Linked DNA regions of Homo sapiens. The protein of the gene in region 5 purifies or fractionates together with the protein of the main gene of each other region. This does not show direct contact. Each region holds a gene or a part of one and is shown on either strand. Other genes may lie near its edges. The genes, in order: NUDCD1, CNP, CAPRIN1, LLPH, OAS3, GNL2 and GNL3L.

The links.
Region 1: the proteins of OAS3 (region 5) and NUDCD1 purify together in Homo sapiens (co-immunoprecipitation; one large-scale study listed by IntAct). This does not show direct contact.
Region 2: the proteins of OAS3 (region 5) and CNP purify together in Homo sapiens (affinity purification with mass spectrometry, with the first as the bait; one large-scale study listed by BioGRID). This does not show direct contact.
Region 3: the proteins of OAS3 (region 5) and CAPRIN1 purify together in Homo sapiens (affinity purification with mass spectrometry; one large-scale study listed by BioGRID and IntAct). This does not show direct contact.
Region 4: the proteins of OAS3 (region 5) and LLPH purify together in Homo sapiens (affinity purification with mass spectrometry; one large-scale study listed by BioGRID and IntAct). This does not show direct contact.
Region 6: the proteins of OAS3 (region 5) and GNL2 purify together in Homo sapiens (affinity purification with mass spectrometry; one large-scale study listed by BioGRID and IntAct). This does not show direct contact.
Region 7: the proteins of OAS3 (region 5) and GNL3L purify together in Homo sapiens (affinity purification with mass spectrometry; one large-scale study listed by BioGRID and IntAct). This does not show direct contact.

Annotation. Positions count from the first base shown.
Region 1 is NC_000008.11:109,240,083-109,244,015, reverse strand, and holds the end of NUDCD1 (nudC domain-containing protein 1), read left to right. Parts: intron 1-714; coding exon 715-1,007; 3' UTR 1,008-3,097; downstream 3,098-3,933.
Region 2 is NC_000017.11:41,969,359-41,973,456, forward strand, and holds part of CNP (2',3'-cyclic-nucleotide 3'-phosphodiesterase), read left to right. Parts: intron 1-2,533; coding exon 2,534-2,673; intron 2,674-4,098. UniProt on the Homo sapiens protein: Catalyzes the formation of 2'-nucleotide products from 2',3'-cyclic substrates. May participate in RNA metabolism in the myelinating cell, CNP is the third most abundant protein in central nervous system myelin.
Region 3 is NC_000011.10:34,089,473-34,093,570, forward strand, and holds part of CAPRIN1 (caprin-1), read left to right. Parts: intron 1-706; coding exon 707-817; intron 818-1,056; coding exon 1,057-1,206; intron 1,207-2,433; coding exon 2,434-2,584; intron 2,585-4,098. UniProt on the Homo sapiens protein: mRNA-binding protein that acts as a regulator of mRNAs transport, translation and/or stability, and which is involved in neurogenesis, synaptic plasticity in neurons and cell proliferation and migration in multiple cell types.
Region 4 is NC_000012.12:66,120,377-66,124,474, forward strand, and holds part of LLPH (protein LLP homolog), read right to left. Parts: intron 3,643-4,098; coding exon 3,464-3,642; 3' UTR 1-3,463. UniProt on the Homo sapiens protein: In hippocampal neurons, regulates dendritic and spine growth and synaptic transmission.
Region 5 is NC_000012.12:112,948,214-112,952,311, forward strand, and holds part of OAS3 (2'-5'-oligoadenylate synthase 3), read left to right. Parts: intron 1-647; coding exon 648-992; intron 993-2,479; coding exon 2,480-2,762; intron 2,763-4,098.
Region 6 is NC_000001.11:37,585,674-37,589,771, reverse strand, and holds part of GNL2 (nucleolar GTP-binding protein 2), read left to right. Parts: intron 1-519; exon of another isoform or gene 520-812; intron 813-2,276; coding exon 2,277-2,461; intron 2,462-4,098. UniProt on the Homo sapiens protein: GTPase that associates with pre-60S ribosomal subunits in the nucleolus and is required for their nuclear export and maturation.
Region 7 is NC_000023.11:54,543,276-54,547,373, forward strand, and holds part of GNL3L (guanine nucleotide-binding protein-like 3-like protein), read left to right. Parts: coding exon 1-67; intron 68-947; coding exon 948-1,051; intron 1,052-4,098.

The DNA.
Region 1 (3,933 bases), on a different chromosome or scaffold from region 5:
TGGAATATAAATGTTGTTTTAATCCAAAAAGATACTTTTTAAACATGTACATGAATTAAGATAAGGATTTTTTTCAGTTTAGAGACTTGAAATTATTTTTGAAGTTATAGTGATCAACATTCTACTTGTGGGGGCTAAAAGTACAAAAAAATCCAGTTACAGTGTTGGTATTGATGTATAAAAATATCACTAACATTTTAGGGATAATAAGAGAATGCATCACGAATACTAGTACATTCAGGGATACATTATGAACAGAAAACTAAAATAACTTTATGATGGTATCCTATACACATTTTCCAATTTATTTAAGAGGAAAAAAATGGTTCTGTGATGCCCTATCCGTAACTCACGAAGCTAAATATTAAATTGGCACTTAAAGATATTTTGTCATGTATTGAGTGTTTTAGATTTTAGAATTTTAGTGTTCGAATTATTCGTGGAAATTAAATGAAGCTATATTACGCTTTTTTTGAAGCGAGAAAGCCATATCTGTTTTGTTCCTTAGGAATTAAAGTCGTATTTTTGTACCAGATGGGAGAGACTGATTGTGGCTAATCGTTAATGATTCAGAATTATATACCTTATGGTATATATTTTACTTGGGCATTTTAATTTGTAATAAACATTGCAAAATATTAAATGTTAAATCATCATTTTTCCCCTTCTGTTTAATATATAGTTTTTCTTTTGTTTGTCTCATATTCTTGGCAGGCTATGTCCAAGCATCAAAGAGAGACAAAAAATTTTTTGCCTGTGCTCCAAATTACTCGTATGCAGCCCTTTGTGAGTGCCTTCGTCGAGTATTCATCTATCGTCAGCCTGCTCCCATGTCCACTGTACTTTACAACAGAAAGGAAGGCAGGCAAGTAGGACAGGTTGCTAAGCAGCAAGTAGCAAGCCTAGAAACCAATGATCCTATTTTAGGATTTCAGGCAACAAATGAGAGATTATTTGTTCTTACTACCAAAAACCTCTTTTTAATAAAAGTAAATACAGAGAATTAATTATTCTAACATATTGGCCTCTTTGTACTGGAAAAGTATTCAGTGGTACCTGGAGGTCTGGACAGTTATACTGTAACCTCTTAAGTTTTAATGTGCTAAATATATCTTGTATGATTTTTTATTTTTTAATAACATTGGAAATATATTCAAGAGATTATGATTCTGTAAAGCTGTGGAATGAAGCTGCAGATTTAGAGAACATTGGCTTCTGAAAAAAAAAAAGAGTGAAGATAGTACTAGCAAGTATACTTATTTTTTAAAACAGGCTAGAATCTCATGTTTTATATGAAAGATGTACAATTCAGTGTTTAAAAATAAAAATATTTATTGTGTACTCTGTTCGTTGATTAGTTGCTACAGGCTGTACCTATAAGATGTACAGGATAATAGTTAAATGTTGAGTATTGTACATATGTATTTAAGTGGATTGAATAACTGAGTCTACATGGAGGAGGAAATGCTAGAGAACAGCAGGTCTAATATTTTTTAAGTTTACTGAGAGACCTTTATTATTATTTTCAAATTAAGTATAGCTTTATGTAACTTTTAGCCAGTTGCTCTGCCACAGACATAGACAAAGAGAGATAAGATTTCACATTATCCATCACTGCATAACAAACCACACCAAAACTCAGTGGTTTAAAACAAGGACTTTTATTATTTTTCACGATTCAGTGAGTTGGCTGTCTCTGCTGTACAGGGCCTCTCAGCCTCCAGTAGACTAGACGAATCTTCTTTCCATAGTAGAGAAAACATCTTAAGAGAGCAAGCTCCAATATGCAAGAGCTTATCGATCCTGTACATCTATCATATTTACTAATGTTCCATTGGACAAAGCAAATCACATGGCCAAGTCTAGAGTCAGAATGAGGGGACTACACAAGCTGACAGCGGATGGTATGACTCATTGGGGGCCATTGATGGAACAATCTTACCACACAAGGACAAATTATAATTTATCCTTGTGGCTCTCTTTATTTTTCTAACAACTTCAACAAAATAATCCTGTTTATATGTTATAGTTTCTTGCCACAAATTTTGTTTTTTCAAACTTACCTTTCCAGGTTTGTTTTAGTATGTATGTACCTGGAAATTTTTATTACTTTTTATACCATTTCAAGATATGTATCTTATATAAACCTCAAGTTGGATTTTATATTTTAATAAGGAAGTTAAGACCTTCATTTAAGAGGCAGAAGATTAAGATAAGAAATATAAGATAGAAAAGCTTTGTTCCTAACATATCTTTTGCCTGTCTGGGCAAGTATTTGACTCAACTAAATTTTAATGAACGAATGAATGACAGAGAGGAGGAAAAAAGATGAGGATTGCATACATGTTCTAAACCCTTTGTCAGATTGCAGTTTCCTAGAGAGTATTGAGGTGCTAGGTAGAAAGTTAGGAAAGGTCCTGAGGACTGGTATTGACAATTGGAGTCCTAATAGTACTCTATTCGTATTAGGAAAGAGAGACTAGATACCAAACATCACGAGATCATAGAGATGGAAAACTGTATAGTAACCAAAAACCAAAACAGTGATATTTCCAGAACTTTTTAGTATTGTTGTAAAACTTCATGAAACAAAAGACCATTTAAATAGTGAATTATTAAAAATCTTTATGATGGGAAAGTAGATCTAAATTTTCTCTAAAATTTTCCCCAAAGATAATATCCTCTTAGGGAACATAAGAAAAATGTATAATAAAAATGTGGTGCTTAATTAACCATGACTATGTATATATTGCCAATTTTAGTAATCAATATTCTTTGTGCATGTGATTTTTTTGCATGATTAATGTTGAATTGAAAGCTCTCAGGATAATTAATCCTAAATATTGTCGCATGTTGACCTACGTTAAAAGATGAATAGGTCTAGAGCCGTGATTTCAAGCTATTTTCCTGAAATGCTTCAGGGATTCCATAAACATTTAAACAATGTTCTAAGGTACATATACTTAGAACATTGAGATATATACTACAAGTGCTAAGAATATAGTACCTTGTATTTTTGTTGATTTTTATCATGTTTTAAATAGGAATTTATAAAATATTTATGATAGTAATAAAGTAGTATTTTATGTGTTTTGCATATTAAGAGTCATTAACAATATTCACTCTTTTAACACATTTAAGCATCAACTATGTACCTTAGCATGATTTTTTCAGTATTAAGGATAATATATTACTAAGGATAAAGAGACAATCTACATTTTAATGATTTTCAGATAAAATTTCTTTTTAGGGAAAAAAAGAGGAGAGGGTGGCATAGAGTGGTTGCTTTCCTGCTAAGGAAGTCTGACCAGGGCTAGAACCTTGGGGACTACCCACAAGAGTCAGGTAGAGGAGTTGCCAATGGGAAGAGTTAGAAAAAAGAATCAGAGTGTCAAGAAATTAGGAATGGTTAACAATGTTAAAAAAAATACTCTTAAATAAAGTATACTCATCAAATTTCTACATAAAAGGGAAATGACTGTACAGAACAAGTTAAACCATCATTACACAGGAATTTCTAATATTTTGTGTTATTAACTATAGAAAAGAACAGATGGTAAGTTTATGTGTGGCAAGTCATATAAGAAGGCAAAACTGATACTTATCACTGATTATTACTGGAAGAATATTCTAATTACTTCTTAGTAGTAAGTGTGTCTTACTGAACAAGTAATAATAGTTGAGTGGTAAAAAACAAAAGCCCAATGATGGAAGTATAGAAGTAATAAAGCAAAGAGAAGTAAGGCCTTCTAGAATTGGTAAGAAAGAATAAATGCACAAAAAGAGCCAAGGTAAAAGGTACCCAACTAGATATCAAGATACATCATGAAGCAGTAAAAAGAGTAGCATCATTGCATTAGTAAACAAAATAGACACACATTTAATCGTCCTATACTTACAAGAAGAAAATATCTATATTCTCAAGGTTGAGAA
Region 2 (4,098 bases), on a different chromosome or scaffold from region 5:
GGATGTGGGGTTTACGGGCTGGAACCCTGGACTCTGGCCACTCTAGCAGGGTTCTCTCTTGGCATGGGCTTTTTGCTCCAATGATAGGTTTGAGATAAAGAAGGGTCCTGGTGGCTCTCCTGGAGTGACCTGTTGGAGAAGTGCCACCCACTAATCCATCTATATGCCTTTAGGCCATTTCTGGTTGCCTCCAATTTTATTTATTTATTTATTGTGACACGGAGTCTCCCTCTGTTGCCCAGGCTGGAGTGCAGTGGCGCTATCTCAGCTCAGTGCAACCTCTGCCTCCCAGATTCAAGCAATTCTCCTGCCTCAGCCTCTCGAGTAGCTAGGACTACAGGTGTGCACCACCACGTCCAGCTAATTTTTGTATTTTTAGTAGAGACGGAGTTTCACAATGTTGGCCAGGCTGGTATTGAACTCCTGACCTCAGGTGATCCGCTTGCCTTGGCCTCCCAAAGTGCTGGGATTACAGGCGTGAGCCACCACCGCACCCAGCCACCCCCAATTTTAGATGATCTTCATGCCTGAAATAGCCCCACTCTGGTTTGTTGACATTGTGTATATTGCACAGAAGCAGGGAATTTGTGCCTGTATGGGTTCTCAGAGAGCTTTTTTCTCAGCTCCTAAACTTGAACTCTGCAGTGAACTGTGGTGCTTGCAGTGACATTGGCCAGGAGCAAGCCCTGTACCTGTGAGCTGGTGGCTCTGCCCTGGAGTGACTACTGCTCAAAGTTGCTTTTAATATTTATTTATGAGACGGAGTCTTGCTCTGTTGCCCAGGCTGGAGTGCAGTGGCATGATCTCGGCTCACTGCAACCTCCGCCTCCTGGGTTCAAGCCAATTCTCTGCCTCAGCTTCCCAAGTAGCTGGGAATACAGGCGCCTGCCACCATGCCCGGCTAATTTTTTTTTATTTTTGTATTTTTAGTAGAGACAGGGTTTCACCATCTTGACCAGGCTGGTCGGTAGCACAAAAGAAAGGAGGGGCCCTTGGCCCAAGATGGGACGAATCAAGCTTGACAGGATGATTGCCAGATCTTTTTTTTTTTTTTTTTTGAGACGGGGGTCTTGCTCTGTCGCCCAGGCTGGAGTGCAGTGGGGCAATTCGGCTTACTGCAACCTCCATCTCCCGGGTTCAAGCAATTCTCCTGCCTCAGCCACCCAAGTAGCTGGGATTACAGGCACCCGCCACCATACCTGGCTAATTTATAAATTTTTAGTAGAGACAGGGTTTCACCATGTTGGCCAGGCTGGTCTCAAACGCCCCGCCTCAATTTCCCAAATTGCCGGGATTACAGGTGCGAGCCACTATGCCCAGCCTATTTTATTTGTAAAGGAAAACTGGATTTTTCTGCCCAGGATTAGAGCAGGAGAAATGTAATGGGCCAGCAAGGCTGCTCTCAGGAGAGGCCTTCCTCCCCTGTGGAGGGCGAGACATCCTCATGGGGACTCAATTCAGAACATAACAGGAAAAAGCGAGTGACTCCAAAGACAGCCACAGGTGTGGAGTCTGGAAATCAAAATCACAGATACTCCACTCCTCTTTGTGTCTTCCAGCCCCATAATGTCACCCCATTATAGTCCAAGACCCTTCCTGTACCAGGAGGCCCCCCCATAGGCCTGCAAGGTGTGTATTAAACTGATGGTGACGTTGTGACTGCTTGTCCAGATGGGCCCCTGAGTGAAATGGGGCACTACTGATAGTTCCCTGGTGGTCCTGGGAACACTGGGGTATATGGTCACCCTAACTGTTGTGCTGGATTGATAGATAGGGTTGGTCACTTGCCCGAGGCCGATGGCTGGTACATGGCAGAGCTGAGATATTCACTGTGTTCTGGCTGTTTCCACCGTACCATGTTGTTCCCAGCCCTCTGTTTTCTTTCCACCCCACTTCCCATGACTTGCTTCCCCTTTGAGACGTGGTGCTAGTAAATCTTAGATTCCCTTGGCCTGTACTGCCTGCCTCTGTTACAAATGCCTTAGAGTTTGGAGAAGAGATGGAAAGATCTATACAATGTAAAGCCAGAGAATTTTAACTTTTTTTTTTTTTTTTTTGGAGACGGAGTCTTGCTCTGTTGCCTAGGCTGGAGTGCAGTGGCACTATCTCGGCTCGCTGTATCCTCTGCCTCCTGGGTTCAAGCAATTCTCTACCTCAGCCTCCCAAGTAGCTGGGATTACAGGCGCCCGCCACCACGCCTGGCTAATTTCTTTGTATTTTTAGTAGAGACGGGGTTTCACCATCTTGGCCAGGCTGGTCTTGAATTCCTGACCTTGTGATCCACCCACCTCGGCCTCCCAGAGTGCTGGGATTACAGGTGTGAACCACCGCACCTGGCCTGAGAATTTTAACTTTTTATTGCTCTAAAGTTGCCATTAGTTTGACCAACTAACCAATGAATGAGCTGTAGTGGGTTGCTGGAGAGGTGATGCTTAGTGTCCGAGTGTTTTGCGCTGGGCCTCGGTGGTCCTGGTGGCGGATGTTGGTATGCCCCTGCTCCCCTGCCCTGACTGCACCCGTTTTCTCCCGGCAGTCGTCCCTGGGGATGAGCCCAGGGAGAAGATGGACTTGGTCACCTACTTTGGAAAGAGACCCCCAGGCGTGCTGCATTGCACAACCAAGTTTTGTGACTACGGGAAGGCTCCCGGGGCAGAGGAGTACGCTCAACAAGATGTGAGTCTTCCCCAGGGACACATGGGGGAGGTGGGAGGTTGGGGGAGAAGGGGCTGCAGCATCTTCTGAAGATAGGTACCGGTGCCAGGCAGGGACCAAAAACCAGATGGCAGCTCAAGAAAAATGGCATCTCCTCCTCCTAGCTCCCCTGTCCCCAGGCGTAGCTGCATAGACCTCAGCCGCAGGTTCTAAGGAGCCTGCCCTGGCAGTACTGCCAGCCTGTGCATTCACCTGCCCCCAAGCACCTTCGCCTTCTGCAGATTCATGGAGAATGCTGGTCCACAGTGGGCTCCTGCTCTGGTCTCTCTGAGCCTGTTTTACCTTCCAAAGACTAGGAGTCCTTCGCCCCCAGGGAGCCTGGTGCACTGAGGTCCCCATCCCTGTCCCCAGGTCTGAGGTCTGGCCTGGCCCCAGAGTGAGGGAGTTTCATACGATAATGAAGCTTATTGGCTAATGGGTACGAGACCTTTCTGCACCACACAGCTGGCACCTTACACCCACAGCCACTGACAGTGATCCCTGAATGCCAGGCATGTCACCCATATCCACAGTCTCCAACTTCCAAGTGTCCACCCCCAAGCCCACTCTCCCACTTCTCTGCCTAGGTTAGCACAATCGTTTGTTTGTTCACTAGAGTGTCCTCCCAAATGGAAGCTCCCCTGAGGGCGAGTTTTTAAGTTTCGTTGACTCCTGTGGTTCCAGCACCCTAGCATAGTGGAATGAATATGTAACACCTGAGCTACCATCCCTAACCATGCCTTCATTTAGCATTTATTAACTACCCATTTCATGCCAGACACTGTTGGGACAAGGGATCGTGAGCAAAAATAGAAAAGCGTTTATGCTGAGATGGGATGGGCTGTCTCAAAGAATCAGATAGAAGCAGACATATCATCAGATGGGAACCAAAGTGTAAGAGCAGGTTTCCATCAAGGGCGAGTCTGACCTCAGTCTGACCTCACCCTGTCCTCCAGGGCGCTGTCTGGGTCCCAGGGGAAGCTGAGCGGTGCCAACAGTAGCAGCTGTTGTGTGCGCGGACACCCCTGTGGGCTGTTTACCTAGTCACTCTCATAACCACATTAACTCTGAGGTAGGCTCTGGTTCTCCCTGTTTTACGGGTGATGAAGCCAAGGCACCGAGAGGTCAGCCAGCCCGCTGAGGCCGGAAGCCAGTGTGCAGGGAGCTGGGCTCCCTCAGGAAGTCCGGCTGTCCCCGTGTGGCCCTGTCTGAGCGCCTTCGTGTTTCTCACTTGAGCCTGGAGCGCCTATGGAAGGTGCGTGCCGCAGTTGTTAGTGGATGCTGGGCCTATACCGACCCCTGCTCAGCTGTGCTCACTTCTGTTAGACTTCCCCTTCTCTCCTCCAGGAGGGACCCTCCCTGGGTCAGCTGTTCCTCAAGAGCCTGCCATCTCTAGCTTGGGCCCCT
Region 3 (4,098 bases), on a different chromosome or scaffold from region 5:
TATTTTCTTCAGGGCCAGGTTAGGTGGCTCGTACCTATAATCCTAGTACTTTAGGAGGCTGAGATGGGAGGATCACTTGAGGTCAGGAGTTCAAGACCAGTCTGGGCAGTGTAGCGAGACACCATCTCTATTTTAAAAAAATAATTAAAAAATATTTTTTCACTTTTGTTTTAATTGGTTCCTTGGTTTCTTTCTTAGCTTATGAAAGAAAATAAGAATTTCATCAGTGTCCAAGTCTTCTGTTGGAATTCAGCAAATTTATTGTTGTGGATAGCTGTCAGCCTTTATTTTTATGTTTAGGTTCATTTTTCCTCTTGATGACTTTTTAAGTTTTTCTTAAGTCTTGCATTTTAAATAATGTATTATAATATAATAAGCCTTTTTTATTTAGAACTGAGAATTTCAGAAGACATAGTTTAGACATAATTCTAAAATTTAGTGCAGATTTCTCCATCTTAGAAGTACTTGTGGAGGGCTTTTATAACGAGACTTGGGTTTATTTAACGTCGAGCTTCAAAAATATATATATTTTTGCAATTTTTAGGTTTTATATTATACAAATTTAAAGAGAGATGGTAATATTAATTTCTCCCTTCTTTAGCAGTTGTATCTATTTCTTAGCCTTATGCGTCTTAGAGGTAACTTGTTTTTTTAACAGTCAATTTTGTAAGCAGGAAGAAGCTTTTATTTCTTTACTTATGTCTAGGTTCCTTTGGTATCATCCACAAGTGAGGGGTACACAGCATCTCAACCCTTGTACCAGCCTTCTCATGCTACAGAGCAACGACCACAGAAGGAACCAATTGATCAGATTCAGGCAAGTTCTGTTACCGGGTCACATACATTTGATGAGGCACTTACTCATGAATTGAACAGATGTACATTACCATTAATATAATGATTCTTCTTTTTGGACCTACTTTGCTTTCATGAAATATTTGAGTTTGTTAATACATATAAGTTTGAGATTAATTTACCACTTTAGTACATCTGTTCACTTTTTGTTTGGCTAAGTTTAGTTTACCGCTAAAGTGCATCTATTCACTTTGTGTTTAGGCAACAATCTCTTTAAATACAGACCAGACTACAGCATCATCATCCCTTCCTGCTGCGTCTCAGCCTCAAGTATTTCAGGCTGGGACAAGCAAACCTTTACATAGCAGTGGAATCAATGTAAATGCAGCTCCATTCCAATCCATGCAAACGGTAAGCAAATTAACTAACATTAATTGCCTAGTATGTAATATGAATCATGGTAGATTTTCTTTTCTTTTTTAAAGGTCTTCATTTAACTGTGCTTGAGTCTGCATCTTTCATTAACTGTAGGGTATATTTAATTGAACATAAACTGATTATTCCAGAGATTAACTGATACTAACGGATATTCTAGAGATAAATTTTAGCCTTATGAGTGATGTGCCTGTATCATCTTAATTTGTAGTTTTACCCTTTTGATTTGATTAACAAAAGCTTAAACATTCAGAGAAATAGACTAATATAACATCCATATAATCATTACCTAGATTTAATAGTTGCCCTGTTTGCTTAATCTTTTATTTTACTGAAGTATTTTGAAGTTTCAGATGTTATGCTTTACCTTGATTCTTGAGCAAGCACCTTTAGAGAATTTCTAGAAAATAATAATAATACTATAATCTGTGGGGTGCAGCTAAATCGGTGCTGAGAGGAAAGTTCATAAGATTAAATATTAAAATAACTTTTGATTAATATGTTAATAAAAATGAAAAAACATTCAACCCTGTTAAAGTTCATAGAACAAACTTCTGTAAGTGGTACTGCATCCAGGAGTTTGTCTTATTTATTTATTTTTTGAGACAAAGTCTTGCTCCGTCGCCCAGGCTGGAGTGTAGTGGCGTGATCTCAGCTCACTGCAATATCCGCCTCCTGGGTTCAAGCGATTCTCATGCCTCAGCCTTTGGAGTAGCTGACACTCCAGGCATAAGCCACCATGCCCAGCTAATTTTTGTATTTTTAGTAGAGACGGGGTTTCACCATGTTGGCCAGGCTGGTCTTGAACTTTTGGCTTCAGATGATCTGCCTGCCTCAGCCTCCCAAAGTGCTGGGATTACAGGTGTGAGCCACTGTGCCAGGCCAGAGTTTGTCTTTTAAAAAGATTTCTCATATATGTAAAAGCATTTCCAAGGCTGCTGATTGCATGTCTTTTTATTTTTTTTAATTCCCTACTTCCATTTCACAGCATATTATACTCCCCTTTAAGTACTATATGGTATATATGTCTTTTTCCACATTGAATCACTTGGAGGGATTTTTGTATGTGTGTGTGATGTTTTTGTGTTTGAGACCTCTGTGATGTCTTTATTTATGTCTGAGGTAAAACCACCATTGAGTTTGGCCATGTTATAAACCAGAGAATAAAAGGATGAACTAATCATTTACTTTATTTACTAACAGGTGTTCAATATGAATGCCCCAGTTCCTCCTGTTAATGAACCAGAAACTTTAAAACAGCAAAATCAGTACCAGGCCAGTTATAACCAGAGCTTTTCTAGTCAGCCTCACCAAGTAGAACAAACAGAGCTTCAGCAAGAACAGCTTCAAACAGGTACGAAATCCAGTGTCACCTCATTGGCTCCTTGCTTTCCAGCACAGTTATTGACAGTGTTAGGACAGTTTAGACTTCAGAGTGGTGGTGTCCAAGAGTTTCTGTTTTAGTAGCAGACCATATGAATTTTTCATTTCAGATCATGAGTTAAATTGAGTCTGTACTTGTATATGTGAATTATGTGCAATTTTTGGAGGCTTTATAGCCATTTTCCTTTTGTCACTGAACTTACATAATATCCCTGTTGCATTGTATAATTTATATGGAATTAAATTTGTTACTTGAATTACCATAAAGTGTACTTTTTTTTTTTTTTTTGAGATGGGGTCTCACTCTGTCACCCAGGCTGGAGCGCAGTGCCGTGATCTCGGCTTACTGCAACCTCTGCCTCCTGGACACAAGCAATCCTCCCTACCTCAGCCTCCCAAGTAGCTTGGGAATACACGCATGTGCCACCACGTCCAGCTAATTTTTTGTATTTTTGGTAAAGTTGGGGTTTCACCATGTTGCCCAGGCTTGTCTTGAACTTCTGAGCTCACGTGATCTGCCCACCTCAGCCTCCCAAAGTGCTGGAATTAAAGGCGTGAGCCATTGCACCTGGTGATAAACTATACTTTTAATTGTTAATTGATTGAAGGCTTTTAGCATGATATCTGGCATTGAGTCAGTTAGACAAAGTTAAGAAAAAACTCATGGTGGCTGCATTTCGTGGACTGGGTTGAAACATAATCTATTTTGTCAAGTAAGGTCATAATTTGGCTAGTTACCATACCTGTCACGATAGTAATGTAGGTAGGGACGCTTTTATGTATTTGAGACAGGTTCTCACTTTGTTGCCCGGGCTGGAGTGCAGTGATGCCAGCATAACTCACTGCAGCCTCAAACTCCTGGGCTCAATGATCCTCCTCCCTCAGCCTCCTGAGTAGTTGGTAGTTGGGACTACAGGTGCTTACCGCCATGGCTGGCTAATTTTTTTTTTTTTTTTGTAGAGATAGGGTCTCCAGGAGCTCACTATGATGCCAGGCTGATCTCCAACTCCTTGCCTTGAGCGAACTTATTGTCTCTGTCTCCCAGAGTGGTGGGATTATGGGCATGAACTACCTTGTCTAGCTCGATAGAGATACTTTAGATTTTTTTTTATATATATATTTTTTTAAGAAATGGGGTCTCTGTCTGTTGCCCAGGTTGGAGTGCAGTGGTGTAATCAGATACTGGAGCCTTTAACTCTGGGGCTCAAATCCTGTACTGGAGCCTTTAACTCCCCACAAGTAGCTTGGACTGCAGGCTTTTCTCAAACTCAGGGCCTCCAGCAGTCCTCCCACCTCTACCTTATAGGCATGAGCCACCATGATGTCTTCTTTAGTTCTTTAATTCCTCAGAATTTAATTGGAATCCCACAACAAACCAGCAGTCAGAGGAGTTAATACTTTCATTTTGTCAGCCCGATTTTGAAAAGTTGTAAAATTTTCTAATTATTCAATTTCTTGGTAAACTTGGATCAGCATTAGATTTTT
Region 4 (4,098 bases), about 47 Mb from region 5:
CACTGCCTAAATTTGAATCCCAGATTTCAGTTTTAGTTGTATGGCCTGTGTGCCTCAGTTTCCCCATGTGTAAACAGAGATTACATTAGTACCAAACTCAGATAACATTAGTACCAAACTCATGAGATTGCTGGGCAGATTAAATGAGTTAATACTTGAAGCAGTTTTGATCATCTTTAAATTATATTTTGATTTCAGACTTAATTTCTTAAAACACAAAAAGTGTTACATTCAATTCCTAATGTGATTTAGCTCACTCAATCTAATTCCAAAATGATTTGGTGCTTAGCTTGAGCTCCATCTTGTGGCTTTACAGCAATTCTCTGGAAAATGTCAGTCAAAAAGATGACAAATTTCAAAAAAATAAGCTAATTATTTAAAAGATAAAAGGACTATGCTATACTTCTCGATTTGTAATCTTTAAAAATAAAGTGCCAAAGATGTGACCATACCCCTGCACTAATTTTGAAATGCTAGTCTAAATTTCCTGCCAATATTTGGAGGTGGGGAGAATCTTGCTGGTAGTGTTCAGGAACTCAGTGCCTTAGAGGGTACTGACAACACTGTGTCAGTAAACTTCTCTTCAGCAGTCGCCTTTCCAGAGGCCATGTGACACTTGAGAACATGATTCCCAAATATGTTTTCTGGTAATGGTGCTTTGATTTTTGATTTTGTTAACTTTCAAGTTAAATCCTGAATGGACAAACTTCATGACTGGACACAATGAAGTGAAAATCCTAACATCAGAGAGGCTCTGGATGAAAGCTCAAAGCTACTATCAACAGAATCAAATTAGAGGTTATCAGCCACAGAAAACATGAACATAACCCTGGCATTGGTCTCTACCTGACAATGCTGCCAAAATGTAAATAAGTGCCAACTGTGTAATATCACGAATGTAGACTTTTTTTTTTTTTTTTTTTGAGATGGAGTTTCGCTCTTCTTGCTCAGGCTGGAGTGCAATGGTGTGGTCTTGACTCACTGCAACCTCTGCCTCCCAGGTTCAAGCGATTCTCCTTCCTCAGCCTCCCAAGTAGCTGGGATTACAGGCACCTGCCACCATGCCCAGCTAACTTTGTATTTTTAGTAGAGACAGGGTTTCACCATGTTGGTCAGGCTGGTCTCAAACTCCTGACCTCAGGTGATCCATCTGCCTCAGCCTCCCAAATTGTTAGAATTTGGTGCCTGGCCCCCTTTTCCAAAAATCATAAAAAATGTCTACATTAGGCCGGGTGTGGTGGCTCACGCATGTAATCCCACCACTTTGGGAGGCTGGGGCAGGTGGATTACTTGAGTCCAGGAGTTTGAGACCAGCCTGGGCAACATGGCGAAACCCTGTCTCTACAAAAATACAAAAATTAGCTGGGCGTGGTGGCACCCACCTGTAGTCCCAGCTACTGGGGAGGCTGAGGTGGGAGAATCGCTTCAGCCTGGGAGGTGGAGGTTGCAGCGGAGCCACACTTGTGCCAATCACTCCAGCCTGGGTGACAGAGTGAGACCCCATCTCAAAAAAAAAAAAAAAAAAAACATAAATAATTCAGCTACTGTATTTAGGCTGATATTGTCAGTGGCTTAACTGGTTGTTTGCAATTTTTTTTATTTTATGAATAAAAATGTACATATTCACTTTTCCCTCACAAATGCTAGTGTTATTCATACCTACACCAAAGGCAACAAAGATCATGAATGACATCTTTCAATTCATATCTTTCTTAGCTGTTAAGAAATTTTAAGCATTTAAAGTTATCTACCAACTTTTCAATAAACTATTGAGAAAAATAAGAAAAGTCTACTATATTTAAACAATTCCAAGAGTTTACTGGCATCAAATTTTATAAGCTTAAATTTTCTGAAACATTTGGGTCATGTCCTCTTTATTACAATACATGTCCATGTATTGTGCCCCAATTTAGCAGTGTGCCTGGCACAAAGTTTGTGACCTCATGACCAAGTGGCCTTATTCTATTTCACATTTTACTTGAGTTCTCCTGGGAAGTTAACATCTTCTTCTAAACAGATACACAGCTCTCAGCCCTATGAGAGCAGAAATCTTATCTTATTCAATCTGTCCCAAGCATCTGGAAAGTCCCTGGCCCACATACTAGGCACTCAGTAAGTATTTGGTTGTTCCAGTTAACATATGAGATGGTTAATCTGATTATAGTGAAATTCAGAGGGAATGCTAAGTTTAGATTGCTTAACTAAAAGTAAAATAAAAATGAATTTAGCAAACTGTAGTAAGACAGATTTAACTAAAAATCATTTCTCAGAAAACTAGTTTCAAAGAGTAGACGCTAAACAGGTTTCTTTGCTGCTGGAACCCTGTAGGACTATTCTAATCCTAAACTAAAATCTTTTGTAAATCTTCAAGTATGTAGCATTTCCCAAATCGATGTGAACACAATTTATTTTTTTTAACCAAGCATCCAGAGGAAACTGATACTGAAGAACACACTCCGGGGAATGCTGCATGATACTATATTAGGCCACACAATATTAACACTAAAGAACATTAAATCAGTTTCCATGAAAAACCTGAAATGTTCTAATTTCCTAAAAAGCATACTGATTTGTATATGTTAATATTCTACCTAAAATTAAGATAAGAAAACATTTAATTGAAATCTGGTCTTCTCTAGGACTAAAAAACCTTAAGCATACATGAAAGAAAAAAAAATCAGACTTGAAGATCTACACACAAAATATCTTTTATTCTGTGGAATCAAAGCTCCACACAAGTACTTTATAAGATCCATTATTTTTTTTTTTTTTGAGACAGAGTCCTACTCCATTGCCCAGGGTGGAGTGCAGTGGGGCAATCTTGGCTCACTGCAACCTCCATCTCCTGGGTTCAAGCAATTATCCTGCCTCAGCCTCCCGAGTAGCTGGAACTACAGGTGCGCGCCCCCATGCCCGGCTAATTTTGTATTTTTAGTAGAGATGGGGTTTCACTGTATTAGCCAGGCTAGTCTCGAACTGACCTCGTGATCCACCTGCCTCGGCCTCCCAAAGTGCTGGGATTACAGGTGTGAGCCACCATGCCCAGCCCTAATGTAGTATTTTTAAATGATATGATTATACAACAACTTTCTTTAAAATCTAAGTTCACAAAAATTTGTCAGTACATCATCTGTTTTATCTCTATTGACTATAATTACCAGTTGTAAGAACAATTCTAACCATATTAATACCTGACAGAACGTTGAGGCCTGATTATAACTGGATATTGGGTAGCATCCAGTTAAAGTATCAGTAGAGCTTGGATGTATCAAAGAAAATATTTTATTCAAGTTCCCAAAACAAACTTGAGGAGTTATGCTGGGTTTGAATTGAAGAAAAAAGGCCAAGTTAAAATAGGAAAACAAATGGTTTTCATTTGGTGGCAGTTGAAATCAAAGTATACATGTGTATACATTCTAATCCGTCATCTATCCCATGTGGCATTTTCCAAGGTTTTAAGAGTCTACCAGGCCAAACCCTTTGCCACTTTCACTGCTTTTGCTTTGCTTTTCCCCTTTCTTTTCTCTCGCTTTGCCTTCAGCCTTTTTCTTTGCCTTTGGTTCATCCATATTGGGTACTGTCCATGCTGGTCTAGAAGAGTCTTTTTGTTTCTCTTAATATCAGTCTCCATTTTCATGTCATCTGCATAAAAAGATGGAAAAACTATTAACACCATGTATGAAAAAAACCACCCTGTGAAAGCATATTAATGCACTGAGAACATCAGAACATTAGAACTGAAGGTAGACCGAAAATAGAGAAGAAAAAAACTTTATAAAGAATGTTGGCATGACTGTCCTTCCTTAGAATAGTAATGTTAAATAGGAAACATTTAGGATGCATGGCTCTGAGTTAGTACATTAGTAGATATATGGTTCTGAGCACATGTGAGTTACAACAACATTTCTCATATTAAGTGATTCCTTGAGTTCAGTAAGCATACCTACACTTCTAAGGGATACACCTTAGATGTAATGAACTGATTAGGAATGACTGGCCATTTCTTAAGAACTTGAACTAAATTATAATGAACTGAGAACGAACTTCTAATGAACTCGATGGAGTAGTCAGCAGCAGGGTTGTAATGGCAGAGACAGG
Region 5 (4,098 bases):
GGCCAGGTGTGGTGGCTCACGCCTGTAATCTCAACACATTGGGAGGCCGAGGTGGGCAGATTACCTGAGGTCAGAGGTCAGGAGTTCGAGACCAGTCTGGACAATATGGTGAAACCTTGTCTCTACTAAAAATACGAAAATTAGCCAGGCATGGTGGTGGGTGCGTGTAATCTCAGCTACTCGAGAGGCTGAGGCAGGAGAATTGCTTGAACTAGGGAGGCGGAGGTTGCAATGAGCTGAGATCACTCCATTGCACTCCAGCCTGGGTGACAGAGTAAGACTCCGTCCCAAAAAAAAAAAAAAAAAAAATGCACAGGGCATCAGGCATGTAAAACAGTCTTATCACCAAGCTCAAGCTGAAACTGCCCGGGGGAAGGAGTCCTTTGTTTTTCTGCAGCTATGGTCTGGTTACCAGACCTTTCTGCCCATCACAAGGGCACCCATTTTGCAGTTTATCCCTCCAGAAAGGCACCTTTTTCAACTCTGCCCAAAGATGGCCATGTGCGTTAGCCATGGCCCTCCCACTTCCCCTCTCTGAGCCTCAGTCACCCTGACTGTACAAAGGGCGGGAGCTGGGGAGAGAAGGCATTGGGTTGATGCAGAAACCACTGCGCCTGGCTGAGGCAGCTCCTTCAATGACCTTCCAGGGCCTTCCACGTGCTGGATGCTCAGGTTTGGGCCACCCCATCCAGCTAGACCCTAACCAGAAGACCCCTGAAAACAGCAAGAGCCTCAATGCTGTGTACCCAAGAGCAGGGAGCAAACCTCCCTCATGCCCAGCTCCTGGCCCCACTGGGGCAGCCAGCATCGTCCCCTCTGTGCCGGGAATGGCCTTGGACCTGTCTCAGATCCCCACCAAGGAGCTGGACCGCTTCATCCAGGACCACCTGAAGCCGAGCCCCCAGTTCCAGGAGCAGGTGAAAAAGGCCATTGACATCATCTTGCGCTGCCTCCATGAGAACTGTGTTCACAAGGCCTCAAGAGTCAGTAAAGTGAGTTGGGCCAGTGGAGACACAGGGGGGACCCTATCGAGGGATCAGCGTGGGGAAGGGAAGGAGTTACAGCAATGGAGCTGAGGTTGGGCTGGGGAACTGGACGGCCCAGGAAGGATGATTTGCTGGCTTAAATAAAATATATTTAAGTGCCAGCTTAGATTTTCTTTTTTTTAATGATACAGTTTTTAAAACACTATTACAAGAATCAGATCACTTCCCTCCTCAGCTCAAAATTCTCCATGGTTTCACAGGGCGCAGAGGCCTCAAGTCCTACAGGATGGGCCCTGGTCTCCCTCTGGCCTTGACTTACTCCACACTGGCCTCCTGGCTGCTCTGAGCTTACCAGGTCCACAGAACAATTCAAGGCCTCTGTAGTGGCTGTTTTCTCTTCCTAGAAGAAAATGAGAATTCTCTTCCCCAACCATTTGGCTCTCTCTCTCTCGCTCTCTCTGTCTCTCCTCTTCAAGTTTCTTGATCTGATGTCCTCGTCCACTGAGGCCTGACCACACGATTTAAAATTGCAGTCTTGCCCGGGCACGGTGGCTCACGCCTGTAATCCTGGAACTTTGGGAGGCCAAGGTGGGCAGATCACCTGAGGTCAGGAGTTCAAGACCACCCTGGCCAACATGGTGAAACCCTGTCTCTACTGAAAATACAAAAATTAGCTGGGCATGGTGACGGGCCCCTGTAATCCCAGCTATGCAGGAGGCTGAGGCAGGAAAATCGCTTGAACCCGGGAGGCGGAGGTTGCAGTGAGCTGAGACCATGCCACTGCACTCCAGCCTGGGCGACAAGAGTGAAACTCCGTCTCAAAAATAAAAATAAATAAAAATAAAATTGCAGTCTTGCACTACCAGCCCCCTTTCTGTTCTGCACAGCACTTAGCATTTTCTCAGGACCTATTGTTTATTGATGGTCCCTTCCTTCCCTCCCCCAGCCAGCATGTAAGTTCCAGAAGAACAGAAATTTTGTATCCTCTCTTCTTCTTTCTTTCCTGCAACAAACATTTAGTGAGCACTTACATGTATCGGATATGTGTGATATCCCGTGTGAAGGAGGGAGGGAGGGAGGGAATTGATGGAAACAGGGCAACAGAGGACAATTGCAGGCCCTATTAGGGCTTGGGACCTCAATTTGCAACTGCTGGCCCAGATGTGCAGTCAGTAGATGCTGCAGATAGTAGGCTAAAATGTTTGGTCGCTGCCCCTACTTAATCCCACCTCCATTATCTGTTGCTGCAGTTTGGTCTGACTTAGCTCAGTCTTCATGGATCAGAGGGCAGGTGCAGGCAGATACAACTTGACTCTCTGTCACAATTCTAAGAGGTCACAGGACCCATGCAGTCGACCTTTGTCATAGTCCCCAGACCTGACATCAGCAAGAGGGCAGGTTCCAGGCTGTAGATGGGGCGCAGGTGATGGGATCGTAGTCCGACTCCCAGGCTCCTAGAGGGTCCCTGATCTGAGCTGTTCTTCCCTCCACAGGGGGGCTCATTTGGCCGGGGCACAGACCTAAGGGATGGCTGTGATGTTGAACTCATCATCTTCCTCAACTGCTTCACGGACTACAAGGACCAGGGGCCCCGCCGCGCAGAGATCCTTGATGAGATGCGAGCGCAGCTAGAATCCTGGTGGCAGGACCAGGTGCCCAGCCTGAGCCTTCAGTTTCCTGAGCAGAATGTGCCTGAGGCTCTGCAGTTCCAGCTGGTGTCCACAGCCCTGAAGAGCTGGACGGATGTTAGCCTGCTGCCTGCCTTCGATGCTGTGGGTGAGGGCGCCCAGCCTGTCCCTTGGAGAGTGATAGGGACCTCAGGCGCCCATCTAACAGGGGCACCTGCCATCCTCTTTGTGATCCTAATTCTCCTACTTGACCAAGCATTGAAAACTACTTTGAGATACTGAAAGTAATCATCACCATCAAATCTTACAACTATTTAGTGCTTTAACTTTACAAATATTTTAATTATGAAATGTTTCAAGCATACAGAAAACTACAGACGTCACACACCCATGTAGCCCAATTCAGATTTAACAAATGTTAACAGTAGGCATATCTGCTTGGTATTTTTTTAAAGAAATTTCTCATGTTATAATTTTCTTCCTTATTTTAAAGGGTTTACTTTATGGTTCATTTTTTTTTAACTTTCGGAGGTGAATCTTAGCTTAGTAATTATCAGTTTTAGTCAATGCAATTAAAGCTACCCATTTCCCTTTCAGTATCACATTAGCTACAGGGCAAATCTTTTGTTTGACATGCATAATTTTTATTATCATTCCGGTCTAAATATTTAGTACTTTTAATTATGACATTATTGTTTGTTCTTTCATCCATGAATATTTGGAAGTAGCTTTCCAAATGAATGTTTTGGAGATTTGTTTGCTTTCGGCATTTACTTATTATGTTTTTTAAAACTGTAGTCAGAAAACATACTTTATGTGATATCAATTCTTTGGAATTTGTTGGCATTTCTTAGATTGCCCATGGTTGAAAAGAATGCATGCTTTCCATCCAGGCATGGTGGATCACACCTGTAATCCCAGCATTTTGGAAGGCCAATGCGGGCAGGTCACTTGAGGTCAGGAGTTCGAGACCAGCCTGGCCACAGTGAAACCCCATCTCCACTAAAAATACAAAAAAAAAAAAAAAAAAAAAAAATAGCCTGGCATGGTGGCACGCACCTGTAATCCCAGCTACTCGGGAGACTGAGGCAGGAAAATCTCTTGAACCTGGGAGGCAGAGGTTGCAGTGAGCTGAGATTGCACCACTGCACTCCAGCCTGAGAGACAGAGTGAGACTCTATCTCATGCTTTCCATTGCTGAATGCAGACTTCTATATAGGTCCTTTAGATCTAGCTTATGACTTCTTGCTCGGATAATTTTTTGTTTGGTCTCTCAATTTCTGAGTAAAATATCTTAAAATCTCCTGCTCTGAATGGATATTTATCCCTTGTTCCTTGCAATTCTGTAAATTTTGTTTTTAATATTTTGAGGCTATGTTATTGGGAACATATAAGTGCATAATATTATATTTTATTGGATTGTTCTTTTATTATTAAGTAATAATCTTCATTTCTGAAAGTTATCTTTGTCTTAAAGCCTTTTG
Region 6 (4,098 bases), on a different chromosome or scaffold from region 5:
AGTGGAATGAGTTTCACACAGAACAAAGAAAGAATCTGTTGTTTGTCTGCTTATTTTTACTTGCATTGAATAATAAATTCCCAGAAATGTAGCCAGTACGTAAGCTTCAGTTCCAGTATGAGGAGGGGAGAAAAACATTGACATGCATACGTGGGTTAAATAGTTCAGGCTGGGCGCGGTGGCTCACGCCTGAATCCCAGCACTTTGGGAAGCCAAGGCGGGTGGATCACAAGGTCAGGAGATTGAGACCATCCTGGCTAACACGTGAAATCCCGTCTCTACTAAAAATACAAAAAAAAATTAGCCGGGCGTGGTGGCGGGCACCTGTAGTCCCAGCTACTCAGGAGGCTGAGGCAGGAGAATGATATGAACCCGGGAGGCAGAGCTTGCAGTGAGCCGAGATTGCGCCACTGCGTGCCAGCCCAGGCGACAGAGCAAGACTCCGTCTCAAATAAATAAATAAAAATAAAATAGTTCAAAGAAAACTGTTTACTTGCAGAACAAAATAAAAACCAAGGCCTGGTTATTGCCTCAGGTTTTGTCAGTTATGTTTTGTTTTATGATGCACTAGAAGAATGGCACCTATTAGTAGAATGACTGTTTTCTTTCAGGGGAACACATGAGTGTAATTCATGAACCACAGACAAGTTGCTCATTTCCCTTGTTCTCTTTGTCTGTTCTCCCTAAAGCCATCTTTTAAGCAACTATTGAATCCTGTTTATGAGAAGAACAGAGAGGTTCTGTGATGGATTTATTGCTTCGTTGCCTGTACTTGTTGTCAGTGCTTCTAAAATTCAGTGTTTAAATATCTGGTATGTAGAATGAAGGGTCTGCAGTTGCACCAGTCAGCTTCTTTGTTGATGCAGAAAGCTGCTCAGAGTAATTGATGAGTTTTCTGCTTTGGCCTTGAAAAACCTTAACTATTTTATTTTAGTGTAATATCTATTACTTATAAAATCTAATTCTGAGATTATTTTGCACAGTGGAGTTAGATCAGATACGCATATTCATCTATATGTGTTTTAGAACTACTGTATTTCTGTAGCAATACAGTAAGAGTACTGTAACTTTGCATATGTGCTTTATATACTGTATATTACTGTGTTATACTTACTAATGTGTGTTATACTTACTAATGTGTAGGTTTATAGACATAAAGCCTTGGGTACTGTAACTTACAGGTTAAGAGATTTTGAAGGATAATTTTGGTCACACTTGATTTTACCCAGTGACATTAGACCCTATTTCCCATGTAAAATGAGCTGCTTCTGTTTGGAGATGCTCCCGAGTGGAACGTAGTGACTAAAACTAAACTGAGTTGTGGGTTAGGGCATCTGAGAAAATGATAATAGTTTAAGGATCTTTAGAAGTTGGAAGAGGGGATCTGTTAAAGTTCAGAAACCACAGGGGCTGCTGCATCATCCTCACAGCTTTTGGTAGTGGTGCTTACGGAGGAGCTTGTACTAGGGGGAAAAGGGTGATTTTTTTTTTTTTAATTGTCTGCAGGCTGTTAACATTCCGTTATGTGATAGATCCCAACTCTTTTATCTTGCTTCAGAAATTCCTATGCCTGTAACTCCTTTACAGGCACATCAAGTTCTAGTTAGTATCAGGTTCCTTTTATCACATCTAAACTATTATTTTGGACTTTTGCTAGATGTTTTTCATCCGAAGACTTGCCATGTGCATTTAATAAAAACGTTACCTAAATTAGGGAAAATGTTATCTGAAACTAAAATGCATCTTACAAAACAAGCAATTCCTTTTAGCCATGAAAGAAATTAACTTCCAAGAAAAAGTTGGCATTTACAGTTGGTTTAAAAAAAACTCACAAATTTGAGTATGATTGTCCTTGACAAAATCTATGAATTTGGCGAATTTTATGCTCTTGTTTGAAAGCTATAAAAAATGGTGGAAAAGATTAATTTTCACCACTGTAGCCTTAATTACATTTGACTGAAATTTATGATAAATGAAATAAAGCAGAGTTTTTGGCAAGTTTTTGTACAACTATTCATATTTACTTTGATTATTTGTATTACTTTTGTATTTCTCCAAGGAAGCTTACAGAACTTCAGAATAAGGGAACCAGTGTTTGTGCCATTTCAACAAGTAATTCTGATTTGAAACCAGACTGAAACCATGTCTTACAGATTTGGGTATGGGTTGAACCTTGGAAAAATAAAATCAGAAAGTCTTTCCTAGGTGGGTGTTGAGCTTTTTGCTTTTTCTCAGTGCTTTTCTTAGTTTTACCTGTTATTCTCCTTTCTCTTCAGAACTTGAAGGTGCACATTCTTGATACTGAAAGTTTTGAAACTACATTTGGCCCTAAGTCACAGAGGAAACGACCAAACTTATTTGCAAGTGATATGCAGTCTCTTATCGAAAATGCTGAAATGTCCACTGAGAGCTATGACCAGGGCAAGGATCGTGATTTGGTAACTGAAGACACTGGTGTGAGGTACATTTTTTTTTTTGCTTCTTTGTTTTTGTTTTTTTTTTTTTGAGATGGAGTCTTGCTTTGTCGCCCAGGCTGGAATGCAGTGGTGCGATCTTGGCCCACTGCAACCTCCGCTTCCCAGGTTCAAGCAATTCTCCTGCCTCAGCCTTTTGAGTAGCTGGGACTACAGGTGGATGCCTCCATGCCTGGCTAATTTTTTGTATTTTAGTAGAGACAAGGTTTCACCGTGTTGCCCAGGCTAGTCTTGAACTCGTGAGCTCAGGCAATCCACACTCCTTGGCCTCCCAAAATGCTAGGATTACAGGTGTGAGCCACTGCACCCGGTCGAGGTACAGTTTTGAAGTTCATGCAAATCTCATCATTTGCTCTTCTGCAACAAAACATTTTCTTTCAACTTATTTTGCCTGTGTGAAGCTCAGTGCTTTAACTCATATATGGAGTTATCTTCTTCCCTCAGACTGGAGACGTTGGTGAAATTGGGGCTAGACTGAAGATGTCTAAGGTGGCTTGATTGACAAAGGTCTCTCCTCATCCCCAAAATAAATAACATTTTTTCATTTATAATAGTAATACACCAGTCATAGACAAATTAGGAAATATAGTTAAGTTGGAAAATACAACAAAAAGAACATAACTCATGATCCCATTGCTGATATTAAGCATTGTTAATGCCTCTGTGAATATCGGGGCTTCCTTAACTGGAGGTCTCTGAGTTAATGGATGGCCTGTAAGGTTTCTTTGACTCTTTGAAGAAAATGTGGAAAATTTGTGAGCTTACATAAAGGCAGTAGGGTTTTGTGTTTTTTGTTTTTGTTTTGGGGAGGAGGAGGAGGAGAGGAAGTATCTATAATTTTAATCATATTCTCGTAGGGATCCATACTCAAAAGGAGAATCAGTCACCGGCTGGCTGCAGTGGCTTACCTGTAATACTAGTTTTTTGGGAGGCTGAGGCAGGAAGATCGCTTGAGCACAGGAGTTTGAGACCAGCCTGGGCAACATAGTGAGACCTTGTCTCTACAAAAAATAAAAAATTGGCTGGGCATAGAGTCCCAGCTACTCAGAAGGCTGAGGTGGGAGGATCACTGGAGCCCAGGAATTTGAGGCTGCAGTAAGCTGTGATTATTAGGAATATATTTCTATGTCAGTACATAATCAACAATAATATAATATTTATTGTCAGAGTAGTATTTTGTTTGTTATGGCCAGTCTCATTGTTGGACATTTATACTGTGTATAGTTTTTCCTTATGGTGAACAACACAAGGATGAAGCATCAATGTGACCGCATCTTTTTCATCCTTAATTATTCCCCAAAGATAAGTTCTTACGGAGCAAAGCATGATATCAAAAGGTATGCATGCTTTTTGATAGGCAGCTGCCACATTGCTCTTGAGAAAGGGTTTAATTTCATTTCCCTTGGGCAGTGCTAGAAAGCTCTCATTCTCGTCCATCTCATGTCTCTTAAATGAAGTGGAGGTTTTGCTGTCTTAGTGAAGAGGCATTGTCCTTTGACTGCATCAGTGTTATTACCTCATTGCTATTGTCAGCCCATCTTCAAGCATTGGGCCACCTAGAGATAAAATGTCAAGCCATTTGAGGCCAAGCAAAAAGAGGCAGTGAGTTCATTTATTTGTTCTT
Region 7 (4,098 bases), on a different chromosome or scaffold from region 5:
CAAATGGAGGAGGCTGTCCTGCGAGCACAAGGCAACAAGAAGCTGGTCCTGGTCTTGAACAAGATTGGTGGGTGTTAGGCAGGATTGGGTGTGACAGGGAAGGTGGGCAGGCCATCTTTAACGTCTAGCTTGGACCAGACACTGAACCCAGCAACTCAGTGATACTCATAATAGTCATGCAAAGTAGAAATTTTTGTTCCGATTTTCAAAGCCTGTATCACAGAGTATGGTACAAGTTAGGTGTGGAATCCAAGCCTGTCTGCCTTTCAGTCCCCTGTTCTTGCCATTTTGAGCCTTCTCTGTTTTTGGACAACCCTGGAGAGTTCCTCCTCCCTCAACTCAAAGACTGGGGCAGAGGAGCACATGGGCTCAGGAGTCACTCATGTCTAGGGTTCAGCCTCCCACCTGTCCTGATTCTTTTCTCTGAGACACTGGATAAGTCATGCCACCTCCAAGAGCTCCTGTTTCTCTAGCTGTAAAATGGGCCATGGGTATCCCAACCTCACAGATTTGTTGTAAGAATTAATGATAAAATGCTTGGTACATGGTGGTCAGTACTTCACACATGATAGCCATTCTTTTTAGGGTTATCTTTGTCATTTGGCCCAACCTAGAATGATCCAGAGAGGGGATAGGAAACACAATATTTGGGGGGTCTCTGATGCTCCTGGCGCTGTTTTGGAAAGAGAACATTTGGGACCAGATAGCTAGTTTGTCCATTTTCCCTGAGGGAACAGAGGCCCCTTCAGGGAGGGCTAACGCATCCCGTAGACCAGACTATCCTTTCTAACTCCAACCTGCGGACTGGATGGGAATGACAGGGCCAGTTGAGAGACCTGTTGATGGTAGGTGGGCCTAGCTTTGGGTACGGGTGGAGGTGTCTTTGGAGGGAACCATGGAGGTGTTGTTCTGCTTACCAGCCCCATCTGTTCCTATATTTACCCCAGACCTGGTCCCCAAGGAGGTTGTGGAGAAATGGCTGGATTACCTTCGGAATGAGTTGCCAACCGTGGCTTTCAAGGCCAGTACCCAGCATCAGGTCAAAAACCTGGTAAGCCTGGGGCTAGGGTCATCTAGCCGCTTTCAGGGTAGTTTGGGGCCAGAGCTGGGAGGGTCGTGACTTGGACTGGGACCTCCAGCCCTTTAGTAATTGAACTGGGCCTTCAACTTTGAGCTTTTTGCTCCACCGAGTGACTTTTTTTTTTTTTTTTGAGATGGAGTTTCACTCTTATTGCCCAGGTTGGAATGCAATGGTGTGATCTCGGCTTACTGCAACCTCCACCTCCTGGGTTCAAATGATTCTCCTGCCTCAGCCTCCAAAGTAGCTGGGATTACATGCACGCGTCACCATGCCCTGCTAATTTTTGTAATTTTTTTATTTTTAGTAGAGATGGGTTTTGCCATGTTGACCAGGCTGGTCTCGAACTCCTGACTTCAGGTGATCCACCCACCTCGGCCTCCCAATGTGCTGGGATTATAGGCATAAGCCAACATGCCTGGCCAGTGACTTCTTAATATTAGTTTCACTTGACTTCTTCCTGTATTATCACTCTTCAGGAAGCATTTCTTTTTTTTCAGTTGTAAGGATAAAACATAATGTCTATAGGGAATTTGTAAAATACAGTTAACTACTTGTTTGTTTGTTTATTTATTTATTTGAGACAGAGTCTCACTCTGTTGCCCAGGCTGGAGTGCAATGGCATGATCTTGGCTTACTGCAACCGCTGCCCACCAAGTTCAAGCAATTCTCCTGCCTCAGCCTCCCAAGTAGCTGGGACTACAGGCATGTGCCACCATGCCTGGCTAATTTTTGTATTTTTAGTAGACACGGGGTTTCGCCGTGTTGGCCGGGCTGGTCTCAAGCTCCTGACCTCGGGTGATCCACCCGCCTTGGCCTCCCAAAGTGCTGGGATTACAGGCGTGAGCCACCACTCCCGGTCTAACTTTATTTTTTATTTTTTGAGACAGAGTCTCACTTTGTCACCCAGGCTAGAGTGCAGTGGCACCATCTCGGCTCACTGCAATCTCTGCTTCCTGGGTTCAAGTGATTCTTGTGCCTCAGCCTCTAGAGTAGCCAGGATTGTGGCTAAGTTTTGTGTTTTTTTTTTTTAGTAGAGATAGGGTTTCACCATGTTGGCCAGGCTGGTCTCGAACTCCTGACCTCAGGTGATCTACCAGCCTTGGCTTCCCAAAATGCTAGGATTATAGCTGTGAGCCACTGTGCACAACCAACTACTTGTTAACTTTAAAAAATACGTATACCTCCAATCATTTTTCTCTTTGAAACAAATCACAGTTCTTCCCAATTATATCATTAATAGAGAAATATGTATGGTTTGTAAAATATTAATACAGAAACTGATTGTTTCTGGGAGAAAAATTGGATACTAAGGGACATTTTTTTTCAATTTTGCATTGGATGTTAAACTTATTTAAAAATAAAGTAGAAAAAATAAAATTAACTACAGATAAAGCTTAAATACCCTTTCACCAGTCTCCCTAATTCTAGTCTCCTTTATTCATGCCCAGAGGTAACTACCATTGACAGTTTGGTGTGCATTCTTCCAGACTTTATTTATTTTAGATACAGATATTTAGGGTCTCAATTGGTCATCCAGGCCTCAGTGCAGTGGCGTGATGATAGCTCATTGCAGCCTCAAACTGCTGGGCTCAAGCCATCCTCCTGCCTCAGCCTCCTGAGTACCTTGGACTATAAGTGCATGCCACCATGCCAGGCTAATTTTTATCTTTTTTATTTTTGTAGAGATGGGGGGAGGGTCTTGCTTTGGTGCCCAGGCTGGTCTTGAACTCCTGGCCTCAAGTGACCCTCCCATCTCAGCCTTCCAAAGTGCGGAGATTACAGGCGTAAGCCACTGCACTCGGCCTTCTTCCAAATGTTATTCTGTGCTTTGGATATACATAGAAGTGTATATATAAAGAGGGAATACTGTTTGGAAGTATTATGTATATCATTCTGTGGCTTAGTTTTTTTTTTCTCTTGGACATCTTTCTATAGAGATGTGCCTTTTCGAGGCTGAATACAATTAGTTTCCAGTTTTTTATCGTTATAACCTGGGCTTCCACAAATACCCTTGTACATGTCTCCTTGGCACATGGGCAAGTGTGTGTTTGTAGGTGAGGTAGAGAAAGGGAGTGGCTGGGTCATAGCCTTTCTGCATTTTACCTTTACCTAGACACTGATGAATCACCCTCCGTGATGGCTGTACCAATTTATACTCCCACCAGTGGGGTAGATGAATGTGTGAGAGGCCTCTTTTCCTACACCCTTGGCAACATTTGATAGCATTAAACTTTTAAACCTTTCAGAAACATGATACCTTATTTACATTTTCTTGGCCTTTTTAAAATTTAAATTTAAATTTTTGTTGAGATGGAGTTTCACTCTTGTTGCCCAGGCCGGAGTGGGATGGCACGATCTCGGCTCACTGCAACTTCTGCCTCCTGGGTTCAAGTGATTCTCCTCCCTCAGCCTCCCGAGTAGCTGGGATGACAGGCATGTGCTACCACGTCTGGCTAATTTTGTATTTTTAGTAGAGACAGGGTTTCACCATGTTGGTCAGGCTGGTCTTGAACTCCTGACCTCAAGTGATCCACCTGCTTTAGCTTCCCAAAGTACTGGGATTACAGGTTTGAGCCACCGTGCCCAGCTTCTTGGCCTTTTTGATGGCAAAAATAGAAGCCGCCTTTTCTTTCTTTTTTTTTTCTTTTTTTTTTTTTTGAGATGACGTCTCACTCTATCTCCCAGGCTGGGGTGCACTGGTGCAATCTTGGGTCACTGCAACCTCTGCCTCCCGGGTTCAAGTGATTCTTCTGCCCCAGCCTCCCGAGTAGCTGGGATTACAGGTGCGTGCCACCACACCCAGCTAATTTTTGTATTTTTAGTAGAGACGTGGTTTTGCCACGTTGGCCAGGCTGGTCTTAAACTCGTGACCTCAAGTGATCCGCCTGCCTTGGCCTCCCAAAGTGCTGGATTACAGGAATGAGCCACAGCACCCGGCCAGAAGCCACCTTTTCTAACAGCTGTATTTCATTTGTATTCCACTTTAAGGCTACAGCTTTTTAACCTGTTTCTTATTG